Linked DNA regions of Homo sapiens. The protein of the gene in region 1 interacts with the protein of each later gene in a biochemical or structural test. Each region holds a gene or a part of one and is shown in the gene's direction. Other genes may lie near its edges.

Region 1 (4,765 bases):
CACTGCAACTTCCGCCTCCCGGGTTCAAGGGATTCTCCTGCCTCAGCTTCCTGAGTAGCTGGGGTTACAGGTGTGTGCCACCATGCCCAGCTAATTTTTTTTTGTATTTTTAGTAGACAGGGTTTCACCATGTTGGTCAGGCTGGTCTCAAACTCCTGGCCTCAAGTGATCCGCCTGACTCAGCCTACCAAAGTGCTGATTACAAGTGTGAGCCACCGTGCCCAGCCACACTCACTGATTCTTTAATGCCAGCCACACAGCACAAAGTTCAGAGAAATGCCTCCATCATAGCATGTCAATATGTTCATACTCTTAGGTTCATAATGTTCTTAACATTAGGTTCATAAGCAAAATAAGAAAAAAGAATAATAAATAAAAGAAGTGGCATGTCAGGACCTCACCTGAAAAGCCAAACACAGAATCATGAAGGTGAATGCAGAGGTGACACCAACACAAAGGTGTATATATGGTTTCCTGTGGGGAGTATGTACGGAGGCAGCAGTGAGTGAGACTGCAAACGTCAGAAGGGCACGGGTCACTGAGAGCCTAGTATCCTAAGTAAAGTGGGCTCTCTCCCTCTCTCTCCAGCTTGTCATTGAAAACCAGTCCACCAAGCTTGTTGGTTCGCACAGCAAGAGTACATAGAGTTTGAAATAATACATAGGATTTTAAGAGGGAGACACTGTCTCTAAAAAAAAAAACAACAGCAACAACAAAAAGCAACAACCATTACAATTTTATGTTCCCTCAGCATTCTCAGAGCTGAGGAATGGGAGAGGTCTATGGGAACCCCCCTTCATGTTCCGGCCTTCAGCCATGGCCCTGGATACATGCACTCATCTGTCTTACAATGTCATCCCCCAGGAGGGCCCGGAAGAAAACAGTGCCTATGAGCAGTTGCTGTCTCGCTTGGAAGAAATCGCTGAGGAAGGTCAGTTTGTTGGTCTGGCCACTAATCTCTGTGGCCTAGTTCATAAAGAATCACCCTTTGGAGCTTCAGGTCTGAGGCTGGAGATGGGCTCCCTCCAGTGCAGGAGGGATTGAAGCATGAGCCAGCGCTCATCTTGATAATAACCATGAAGCTGACAGACACAGTTACCCGCAAACGGCTGCCTACAGATTGAAAACCAAGCAAAAACCGCCGGGCACGGTGGCTCACGCCTGTAATCCCAGCACTTTGGGAGGCCAAGGCAGGTGGATCACGAGGTCAAGAGATCAAGACCATCCTGGCCAACATGGTGAAACCCCATCTCTACTAAAAATACGAAAAAATAGCCAGGCGTGGTGGCGGGTGCCTGTAATCCCAGCTACTCGGGAGGCTGAGGCAGGAGAATGGCATGAACCCGGGAGGCAGAAGTTGCAGTGAGCCGAGATCGTGCCACTGCACTCCAGCCTGGGCAACAGAGCGAGACTCTTGTCTCAAAAAAAAAAAAAAAAAAGAAAACCAAGCAAAAACCAAAATGAGACAAAAAAAACAAGACCAAAAAATGGTGTTTGGAATTGTCAAGGTCAAGTCTGGAGAGCTAAACTTTTTCTGAGAACTGTTTATCTTTAATAAGCATCAAATATTTTAACTTTGTAAATACTTTTGTTGGAAATCGTTCTCTTCTTAGTCACTCTTGGGTCATTTTAAATCTCACTTACTCTACTAGACCTTTTAGGTTTCTGCTAGACTAGGTAGAACTCTGCCTTTGCATTTCTTGTGTCTGTTTTGTATAGTTATCAATATTCATATTTATTTACAAGTTATTCAGATCATTTTTTCTTTTCTTTTCTTTTTTTTTTTTTTTACATCTTTAGTAGAGACAGGGTTTCACCATATTGGCCAGGCTGCTCTCAAACTCCTGACCTTGTGATCCACCAGCCTCGGCCTCCCAAAGTGCTGGGATTCATTTTTTCTTTTTAATTTGCTCTGGGCTTAAACTTGTGGCCCAGCACTTTATGATGGTACACAGAGTTAAGAGTGTAGACTCAGACGGTCTTTCTTCTTTCCTTCTCTTCCTTCCTCCCTTCCCTCCCACCTTCCCTTCTCTCCTTCCTTTCTTTCTTCCTCTCTTGCTTCCTCAGGCCTCTTCCAGTTGCTCCAAAGCCCTGTACTTTTTTTTGAGTTACGTCTTATGGGAAGGGCCTGCACTTAGCGAAGAAGTGGTCTCAGAGTTGAGTTACCTTGGCTTCTGGGAGGTGAAACTGTATCCCTATACCCTGAAGCTTTAAGGGGGTGCAATGTAGATGAGACCCCAACATAGATCCTCTTCACAGGCTCAGAGACTCAGGTCCCAGGACTGGACATATCTGCACTCCTGCCCTCTGACTTCAGCCGCTACTTCCAATATGAGGGGTCTCTGACTACACCGCCCTGTGCCCAGGGTGTCATCTGGACTGTGTTTAACCAGACAGTGATGCTGAGTGCTAAGCAGGTGGGCCTGGGGTGTGTGTGGACACAGTGGGTGCGGGGGAAAGAGGATGTAAGATGAGATGAGAAACAGGAGAAGAAAGAAATCAAGGCTGGGCTCTGTGGCTTACGCCTATAATCCCACCACGTTGGGAGGCTGAGGTGGGAGAATGGTTTGAGCCCAGGAGTTCAAGACAAGGCGGGGCAACATAGTGTGACCCCATCTCTACCAAAAAAACCCCAACAAAACCAAAAATAGCCGGGCATGGTGGTATGCGCCTAGTCCCAGCTACTCAAGGAGGCTGAGGTGGGAAGATCGCTTGATTCCAGGAGTTTGAGACTGCAGTGAGCTATGATCCCACCACTGCCTACCATCTTTAGGATACATTTATTTATTTATAAAAGAAATCAAGAGGCTGGATGGGGAATACAGGAGCTGGAGGGTGGAGCCCTGAGGTGCTGGTTGTGAGCTGGCCTGGGACCCTTGTTTCCTGTCATGCCATGAACCCACCCACACTGTCCACTGACCTCCCTAGCTCCACACCCTCTCTGACACCCTGTGGGGACCTGGTGACTCTCGGCTACAGCTGAACTTCCGAGCGACGCAGCCTTTGAATGGGCGAGTGATTGAGGCCTCCTTCCCTGCTGGAGTGGACAGCAGTCCTCGGGCTGCTGAGCCAGGTACAGCTTTGTCTGGTTTCCCCCCAGCCAGTAGTCCCTTATCCTCCCATGTGTGTGCCAGTGTCTGTCATTGGTGGTCACAGCCCGCCTCTCACATCTCCTTTTTCTCTCCAGTCCAGCTGAATTCCTGCCTGGCTGCTGGTGAGTCTGCCCCTCCTCTTGGTCCTGATGCCAGGAGACTCCTCAGCACCATTCAGCCCCAGGGCTGCTCAGGACCGCCTCTGCTCCCTCTCCTTTTCTGCAGAACAGACCCCAACCCCAATATTAGAGAGGCAGATCATGGTGGGGATTCCCCCATTGTCCCCAGAGGCTAATTGATTAGAATGAAGCTTGAGAAATCTCCCAGCATCCCTCTCGCAAAACAATCCCCCCCCTTTTTTTAAAGATAGGGTCTCACTCTGTTGCCCAGGCTGGGGTGTTGTGGCACGATCATAGCTCACTGCAGCCTCGAACTCCTAGGCTCAGGCAATCCTTTCACCTTAGCTTCTCAAAGCACTGGGACTGTAGGCATGAGCCACTGTGCCTGGCCCCAAACGGCCCTTTTACTTGGCTTTTAGGAAGCAAAAACGGTGCTTATCTTACCCCTTCTCGTGTATCCACCCTCATCCCTTGGCTGGCCTCTTCTGGAGACTGAGGCACTAGGGGCTGCCTGAGAACTCGGGGCAGGGGTGGTGGAGTGCACTGAGGCAGGTGTTGAGGAACTCTGCAGACCCCTCTTCCTTCCCAAAGCAGCCCTCTCTGCTCTCCATCGCAGGTGACATCCTAGCCCTGGTTTTTGGCCTCCTTTTTGCTGTCACCAGCGTCGCGTTCCTTGTGCAGATGAGAAGGCAGCACAGGTATTACACTGACCCTTTCTTCAGGCACAAGCTTCCCCCACCCTTGTGGAGTCACTTCATGCAAAGCGCATGCAAATGAGCTGCTCCTGGGCCAGTTTTCTGATTAGCCTTTCCTGTTGTGTACACACAGAAGGGGAACCAAAGGGGGTGTGAGCTACCGCCCAGCAGAGGTAGCCGAGACTGGAGCCTAGAGGCTGGATCTTGGAGAATGTGAGAAGCCAGCCAGAGGCATCTGAGGGGGAGCCGGTAACTGTCCTGTCCTGCTCATTATGCCACTTCCTTTTAACTGCCAAGAAATTTTTTAAAATAAATATTTATAATAAAATATGTGTTAGTCACCTTTGTTCCCCAAATCAGAAGGATGGTATTTGAATTTCCTATTACTGTTATTAGCACGAATTTAGTGGTAATGCATTTATTCTATTACAGTTCGGAGGTCAGCAGTCAGATGTCAGTAGGGCTTGTTCCTCCTTCCACACATCACTCCAATCTCTTGCTCCCATTGTCACAACTCCTACCTCCACATTTGACCTCCTTGTCTCCTCAAGAACCCTTGGGATTACACTGGGCCTAACTAGATAACCAAGGATAATCATCCCATCTCAAAATCTTAATCACCAAGTTTCTTCCCATGTAAGATAAGAACAATGCACAGGATTAGAACATGGACATCTTTGGAGAAGGGGAATTATTCTGCCTACCACAGATGCTATCAGGAAGAGGACAGAAATGACTGATACTGTTGGGATGGCTGTGTGTGTGTGTGTGTTTGTGTGTGTGTGCAGTGTATGTGTTGAGGGGTAGGGCAGACAGCAGCCCTAGGCTTAACATCACACTCAGGCTTTTGGGTTTTCAC
Region 2 (7,033 bases), on another chromosome or scaffold:
AATTTGAGATTACATTTTCACTTCTGAGAGGCATGGACATGACTAATTACAAAAGGTTGTTATAGGCATAAAATTTCAGGTCTATTTATATAATTACATAGTTCATTAATACAGAGAAGGTAAAGAAATGAATGCAGGCTTAAAAATTTGGAAATTTCTGCATTTTAAAAGAATCTTTTTGTAGGACTATTAAGGCTCAATTTATTGAAAAATTGTAATATTTCTTTTGTGTTTTAGTATTGTGCATTATTTAAAAATGAGATATTAAGACTTAGGAGAAATGGGGAAGCATTAGGATGAGAAATGCTGAGATTAGGAACTCTGCCATATGCAGGGTTTTTGTTGTTGTTGTTGTTTTGGTTTTTTTTGTTTGTTTTTTTGAGATGGAGTCTTTTCTGTCGCCAGGCTGTAGTGCAGGGGCGCCATCTCAGCTCACTTCAACCTCCGCCTCCCAGGTTCAAGCAACTCCCTTGCCTCAGCCTCCCAAGTAGCTGGGATTACAGGCACACACCACCACGCCTGGCTAATTTTTTGTATTTTAGTCAAGACGGGGTTTCACCATGTTCGCCAGCATGGTCTCGATCTTCTAACCTCGTGATCCACCCGCCTGGGCCTCCCAGAGTGCTGGGATTACAGGCCAGCACCGCATCCACCCATGCAGGGTTTTTTGTTTGTTTGTTTTAAAAAAAGGAGACTAGGAGCTCTTTTATTAAAAAAAGGAGGAGGCATTTGTGTGTCTTAATTACTAGGATAGTGCCTGTTACTTACTAGCCTCGGTTTAGTGAAAAGTTATTAATGAATGCCAATTCAAATAAAACCTTCAGAAGAAAAATGAAGAAACATTCCTTGGGACAGTACCTTAGAACAGTGCTTCTCATCACTTCCTCCCTAAAAGAAACACTTCTGGAGTGTACTGAGACTTTTTGCCAGAAAACATTTGTACCAGTGTATATAGTTATTTTAAGGACCTCTAGGGATGCATGTTCCATAAAGGAATAAAGAGTAAACCTTATAATGTAGCCAATAGATAGGGGATTCGGTTGATACCAGAGTGAAAGCTTTAATGTGGATGAACCATGTGACACTCCATTTGTGAATATTAATATTGAATATTTGGTAGGTTGAGGTAACTAAGTTCTTTTCTTTTTTTTTTTTTTTTTTAGAGATAGGGTCTCGCTCTGTCACCCACGCTGGAGTGCAGTGGCACCACCTCAACTCACTGCAGCTTCAACCTCCTGGGCTCAAGCGATTTTCTTCCCACCTCAGCCCCCAGAGTAGCTGGGACTACAGGTGCGCACCACCACACTCAGCTAATTTTTTTTATAGAGATGGGTATCACCATGTTTCCCAGGCTGGTCTCAAACTCTTGATTTCCGGCAATCTGCCCACCTTGGCCTCCCAAAGTGCTGGGATTACAGGCTTGAGCCACTGTGCCCAGCCACTTCTTTTATTTTCATATTCTTCAACCACCAGTTGATTTAAAATATTCCAAGGAATCAAGAGCTAAAGAAAATATCATTATCTTTCTATATATAATAGTTAATATTAATGCTTACTGTGAGCTTGATTTTTGTTTATCCTTACAACTTTAGTAAAAGAGGATAATAATAATCTCGTTTACAGTTGAAGAAACTGAGATTTGGAGAGATTAAGTACTTGTTTAAGGTCAGTTAGATAGTAGGTCTGGGACTTATAGGATCTCTTTACCCCCAGAACATGAACTCTTGACCACCCAGCTATGTCACTTCTCCAGGGTTTAGACTAGTGGATGTTAAGATTCAGGCCTTAAATTTCATTTCCCTCTAAAATTAGGCTTATAGAATATTTCATGCTAGAAGATGCTTTTAATAATTCCTGAGGACTACAAAAAGTTTAAGATCTGGTGCTTACTTTCCCTAAATCTACATGCTTGTTGAATAGTTAAGACACTATTGTAAAAAGATGAATAACCCAGGGCAATATGTAATTGTCAGGCATTAAGTGGCAGAGAATATTAAAGCAAGAAGATTCATGTCCATGGAGAGATTTGAGCCAGGTGTTGAAAATGAAACTCTAGATAGAAAGTGAAAATGTAAAGCACACGATACAAAACTTCACTGGGGAAGAGGGAATAGATAACCTGACTGTAGCTGGATGGATATTGTCCACAGAACTCCTTAAGAATAGGGACCTTGTCTTACTAAACGGAATCGTTCTCTTTGTCTGGCTCTGGGCCATGTGGGTTCTCAGTAGGTGCTTGTTTAAGTAGAATTGGGTTTTATTTCCATTATATAGGGATTTTAGGAACCTCCAGAAAACCATTGTAAAATCAACTAAACTGTTTGTTTAAATACCACTTGATAGAATCTTCTTAAAATAATTCACCCCATTTTGGAATGCAAGTTTTTCCCAATTTGATAAAGGTTTATATTACCAGATTTATTTATTTAAGTGTTTTGGATATTGGACGGTATTTTCTTTTGGAAACTGTTTAAAATGCTTGTAAAAAAAACTCAAGCCTTTTAAGGAATCAGGTTTTCAGAGCTGGAAGGAACCTTAGAGATCCTATCATATAGCTGAAAGTACAGTGTGGGTGGGCATTTACAATAACATAACAGGAAATAGTGAAATTATCTTAAGTACTTGTGCTTGGAGAAAAGCAGGTTTAATCAGAAGAAATAGATTTGCAGAGATTAAGAAGGTGATTTCTGGGCACTTTTAAAAATACTTAGAAGGTTGATGGCAGTAACTTTCTTGATTTTACTTTGATGTTTTTTTCTTGATATATACTATGCTAACTGGTTATCAGCAGTGATTAGGGCTCACCACTGAGAAAGAGGAGGAAGGGACCTCACAGAGAAAACTGGGAAGAAAGATTAGTAAAAATTAGATTTCTTTACATGAACAATATTAAGACTATTCCAATTTAGGTCTTGTGTGGTGGCTCACGACTGTAATTCCAGCACTTTGGGAGGCCAAGGCAGGCAGATCATCTGAGGTCAGGAGTTCATGACCAGCCTGGACAACATGGTGAAACCCCATCTCTACTAAAAATACAAAAATTAGCCGGGCATGGTGGTGCATACCTGTAATCCCAGCTACTCGCGAGGCTGAGGCAGCAGAATTGCTTGAACCTGCGAGGCAGAGGTTGCGTGAGCAGAGATTGCACCACTGCACTGTGGCCTGGGTGACAGAGGGAGACTGTCTCAAAAAGAAAAAAAAAAAAACTGTTCCAACTTAATTCATAGCACTCTAAGGAATAACTGAGGAAAAGTGAAATAGCAGTGGTGTATGTGCAGGATCTCTGAAAGGTAATTGGTGTACTGAGTGATAAAATTGACCATATCAACTAGATTTCTGGTTGGAAGCAAGAGTAAAATTGTGTTTATGTATGATGGGAGAGGCTGTGGTGAGAGTTATTGTGAGTGCAAGGTATCTATCGATCTAGTGCATACCTAGTGTAAGTTCCAGACTGTGTTACTCATCACTGTGTTTGCAGAGTAGAGTTCCTTATGTTGGTGCCCTCAAAATACTTGTTGAATAAAGGAATGAGATGGCACTGCCTACAGGTCATATCAACCTGGGAATTCCATTGAAGTCTGAAACGTAAACATTTATCTTTTTCTTTTCCCGTCTTAATGCCTTCTTTATCCTTATTTTGGCCTGTTAAATTACCATCCACTGAAAGTCACAAGCAGAAAATCTTTGATATCACCCTTCTCCCGTCTGTCTTCTTTAGTCTCCTGATGAGTATTTCTCAAATTAATCTTGCTGTCTCAGGCCTCTTCCTAACCCAGTTTGTTCCCTCTGGCCATTAGAATTTTCTTCCTATATACTGCAGCTGATCATTGCCTCCCTCACTAATTTCCATTGACTACAAGATAAACTCCAGATTTCTTAGCTGTTGCCCATCTGAATTCGTAGAGACTGCTCTCCTAAAATCCCCAACAGTCTCCCTAGTCTCCTAATATAACTCATTTAGTGGATATTTTCTTTGCTCATCTATTTGGTATATTTTTTTAAATCACTTTTTCCTTCTTGGAATTCTCTTATATGGGCATCCTGACACGAGTTGGGTTTTTGTCCGTAATAGTCAGGGAAAACACACACTTTAGGGTATCAGAGGATGTTAGAAGGAACCTATTCATTTGGGTAATTTGGGAAAGAGTCTAAGGAAGTGAAGCCTTGCTTTAGGTTGAGTGTTGTCAGAAAGTGAGGTCAATTCTATGATTCGGCCTCTTAATAAATTTTACAGGGAGGGCTGACCTAAGCAGGGGGAAAGCTGTAGTTGGTAAAGAAGTATCAGTCACTCATTTAACTGGAGAGGGGAATGTTTGGTATTTTGTATTGCTCAGGGACCTTGTCCGAAATGGATGTTCTGTGAGATTGTTTATGTCCAAGAAAACAATATGCCTTAGCTGTTAAGCATCAGATCGGTTAGTAATAACACTGAGGTTTAGTTATGAGTCTCAGATAAGTTTCTGGAATGTGGAGGCTGCTGTTTTTTTCTTTATCAGTGCCCACTTTTGGCCAAGGGTAGACAAAGTTGGGCTGCAGGACATTAATTTTTGATTTTCACATCTTCACTATGGCGGAGATTTTGTTAAGATCAGAGGAATATCCATTCCATGTAGTTTGCAGTTTAACCAAAGTTAATCCTTTCTTCTGTTGTAAGATGAGCAGTTTATTCATCTGATGTGACAATGGCTGCAGGGTAACATTAAGACTCTGGACAAGGATATGTTAGCTGACTGTATTACCCAGTCTTGTGGTTTTCCTTTTACTTCTTTCCTGCTAGCTCATCCTTACCATCCCTATATCTAATCCATTTTGAAGAACTATTAATTTTAGTTTGTAAAATTCAAACCAACTAGTTCTCATTATTTGTAGTATGTTTTGTAACATTATCACAAACACTGAGTTAGCAAGTACTGAACCATTGCTTCTGAGGGAATTATGGAATTAGTTTCTCTGAGTCCTGAGTCACATTATTTTAATCAGTTGATGAGTTTGTAACCTCGTTTTATGAGTGTTTCTTTTAAAGTTGTCTTAATATATATTGCTGATTTATTAACATTGAATTCACAGCCAATAAAGAAGCTTATCTAACACATATGTTTTTTTCAGAAGGCACATTATAGCCTTCTTGCACTTAGGAATGCTAGACAGCATTTCAGCACTGTGCTTGGAGGCCATATTAAACAACAAGAGCGCCAAGAAAAAGCACAAACATGTGAAAAACATGGGCTGAAATAGGCCAAGAAGAAGATGCTTGTTTACAACATGAGAGCTGGAGCTAGAAGGCAGAGTGTTGCTTTGTGCCACCACAGCTGGGAATGTATGTGTTGGATTACTCAAAATTTTCACCACTCGACACTCATCCAAATGACTGTGAAATAGGAAGCATTAATTTTGCTTTACAAATAAATGTTAATGAGTAGGTGAATTTGCAAATATGGAACCTGGGAATAATGAGAATCAACTGTATGTCATTTTTTTTTCCATCTTCATTGATTGCCATAACCTAAGTCAGGCCATCATAATTTCTAACTTAGTCATTCTCCTAACTAGTCTCCATTCAGTATGGCCAAATGAAGATTTGTTCTCTCCAAAGTATGGTCCACAGTATAGCTGGAGTAATGTTTCTGAAATGTAAATCTGATCATTGCATTTATTCCCCATCTGTAACCCAGTTGTTTTTCAGTAGCTTCCCACTCTCTTAGAATAAAGGCTAAAATCCTGATATGGTCTACAAATCCTTTAAATTCCTGGCCCTTGCTTACCTGGCACTAACTTCCTCCTGCTTCACCGTAATTTTGCCTACTCTTTATTTATTTTTGAGACAGAGTGTCACTCTTTTGCTCAGGCTGGGGTGCAGTGACGTGATCTTGACTCACTGCAACCTCCACTGCCCGGCTTCAAGCGACTGCCGCCCAGGTTCAAGCATTTCCCCTGCCTCAGCCTCCCAAATAGGTGGGATTACAGGCATGTACTACCATGCCTGGCTAATTTTGTATTTTTGGTAGAGACGGGGTTTCACCATGTTGTCCAGGCTGGTTTGGAACTCCTGACCTCCACCTGCCTAGGTCTCCCAAAGTGCTGGGATTACAGGTGTGAGCCACCATGCCCAGCTCCTACTCTTCAGATCAGTCTTTCCTGACACAACCCGCAGTTCAGTCTAGGTCATGTTACTTTGTTTATATGATAGTGCTTTCTTGTTTTGGGATGAATCTCACTCTGTCACCTAGGCTGTAGTGCAGTGGCTCAATCTCGGCTCACTGCAACCTCTGTGTCCCAGGTTCAAGCGATTCTCCTGCCTTAGCCTCCCAAGTAGGTGAGATTACAGGTGTACACCACCACACCCAGCTAATTTTTGTAATTTTAGTAGAGACAGGGTTTCACCATGTTGGCCAGGCTGGTGTCGAACTCCTGACCTCAGGAGATCTGCCTGCCTTGGCCTCCCAAAGTGCTGGGATTACAGGCGTGAGCCACTGGCACCTGGCCCCATAGTGTTTTCTTGATAACACTTTCCTTCATAGCATTTATCTTAGTTCTTAGTTCTACAGGTGCTTACTCATACATGCAATTTAAAAAGTTAATATGCCTTTTACTAGACTGCAATGTAAGCTCCAAGACAGCAAGAATTGTGTGTGCTTTGGTTAGCCCTTATATCAGCAAAAACTAGTACAGTACCTGATATGTAGTAGGTTCTTATTACACAGTGTATGAGTATATAACGCCATTCCCATTTTGACCTCAGCCTATATTCCCATCATCTTCCTATTAGGTTTCTGTGCTCCACATACTGAACTGTTTCCTTAGTCCTTCACTCTGAGGTGCTCTGTCCTTCCCCACCACCAAAAAAAAAAAAAAAAGTAATTTAAATTCCAAACCAATTTTTCCCATGCAAACCCCTGTTCATCCTTTGAGATCCAACCTAACAGTCAACTCTTGGGTGTGATAATTTCCATATGCTCTTGAGTAGTGTTTTATAAAATGTATTGAGATCTGTGCCCTTAGCACCATACCTAAAAGAGTAAATGCTGAAGAGACA

Evidence for each region. Proteins that work in one complex are often made in the same cells at the same time.
Region 2: the proteins of CA9 (region 1) and CAND1 interact in a test that uses a peptide from one of them, tested with the Homo sapiens proteins (one study listed by BioGRID).

What each region holds. Positions count from the first base shown.
Region 1 is NC_000009.12:35,676,926-35,681,690, forward strand, and holds the end of CA9 (carbonic anhydrase 9 precursor), read left to right. Parts: intron 1-751; coding exon of another isoform or gene 752-766; exon of another isoform or gene 767-864; coding exon 865-931; intron 932-2,259; coding exon 2,260-2,417; intron 2,418-2,928; coding exon 2,929-3,073; intron 3,074-3,187; coding exon 3,188-3,214; intron 3,215-3,827; coding exon 3,828-3,909; intron 3,910-4,039; coding exon 4,040-4,100; 3' UTR 4,101-4,234; downstream 4,235-4,765. UniProt on the Homo sapiens protein: Catalyzes the interconversion between carbon dioxide and water and the dissociated ions of carbonic acid (i.e. bicarbonate and hydrogen ions).
Region 2 is NC_000012.12:67,272,337-67,279,369, forward strand, and holds part of CAND1 (cullin-associated NEDD8-dissociated protein 1), read left to right. Parts: intron 1-1,163; exon of another isoform or gene 1,164-1,290; intron 1,291-7,033. UniProt on the Homo sapiens protein: Key assembly factor of SCF (SKP1-CUL1-F-box protein) E3 ubiquitin ligase complexes that promotes the exchange of the substrate-recognition F-box subunit in SCF complexes, thereby playing a key role in the cellular repertoire of SCF complexes.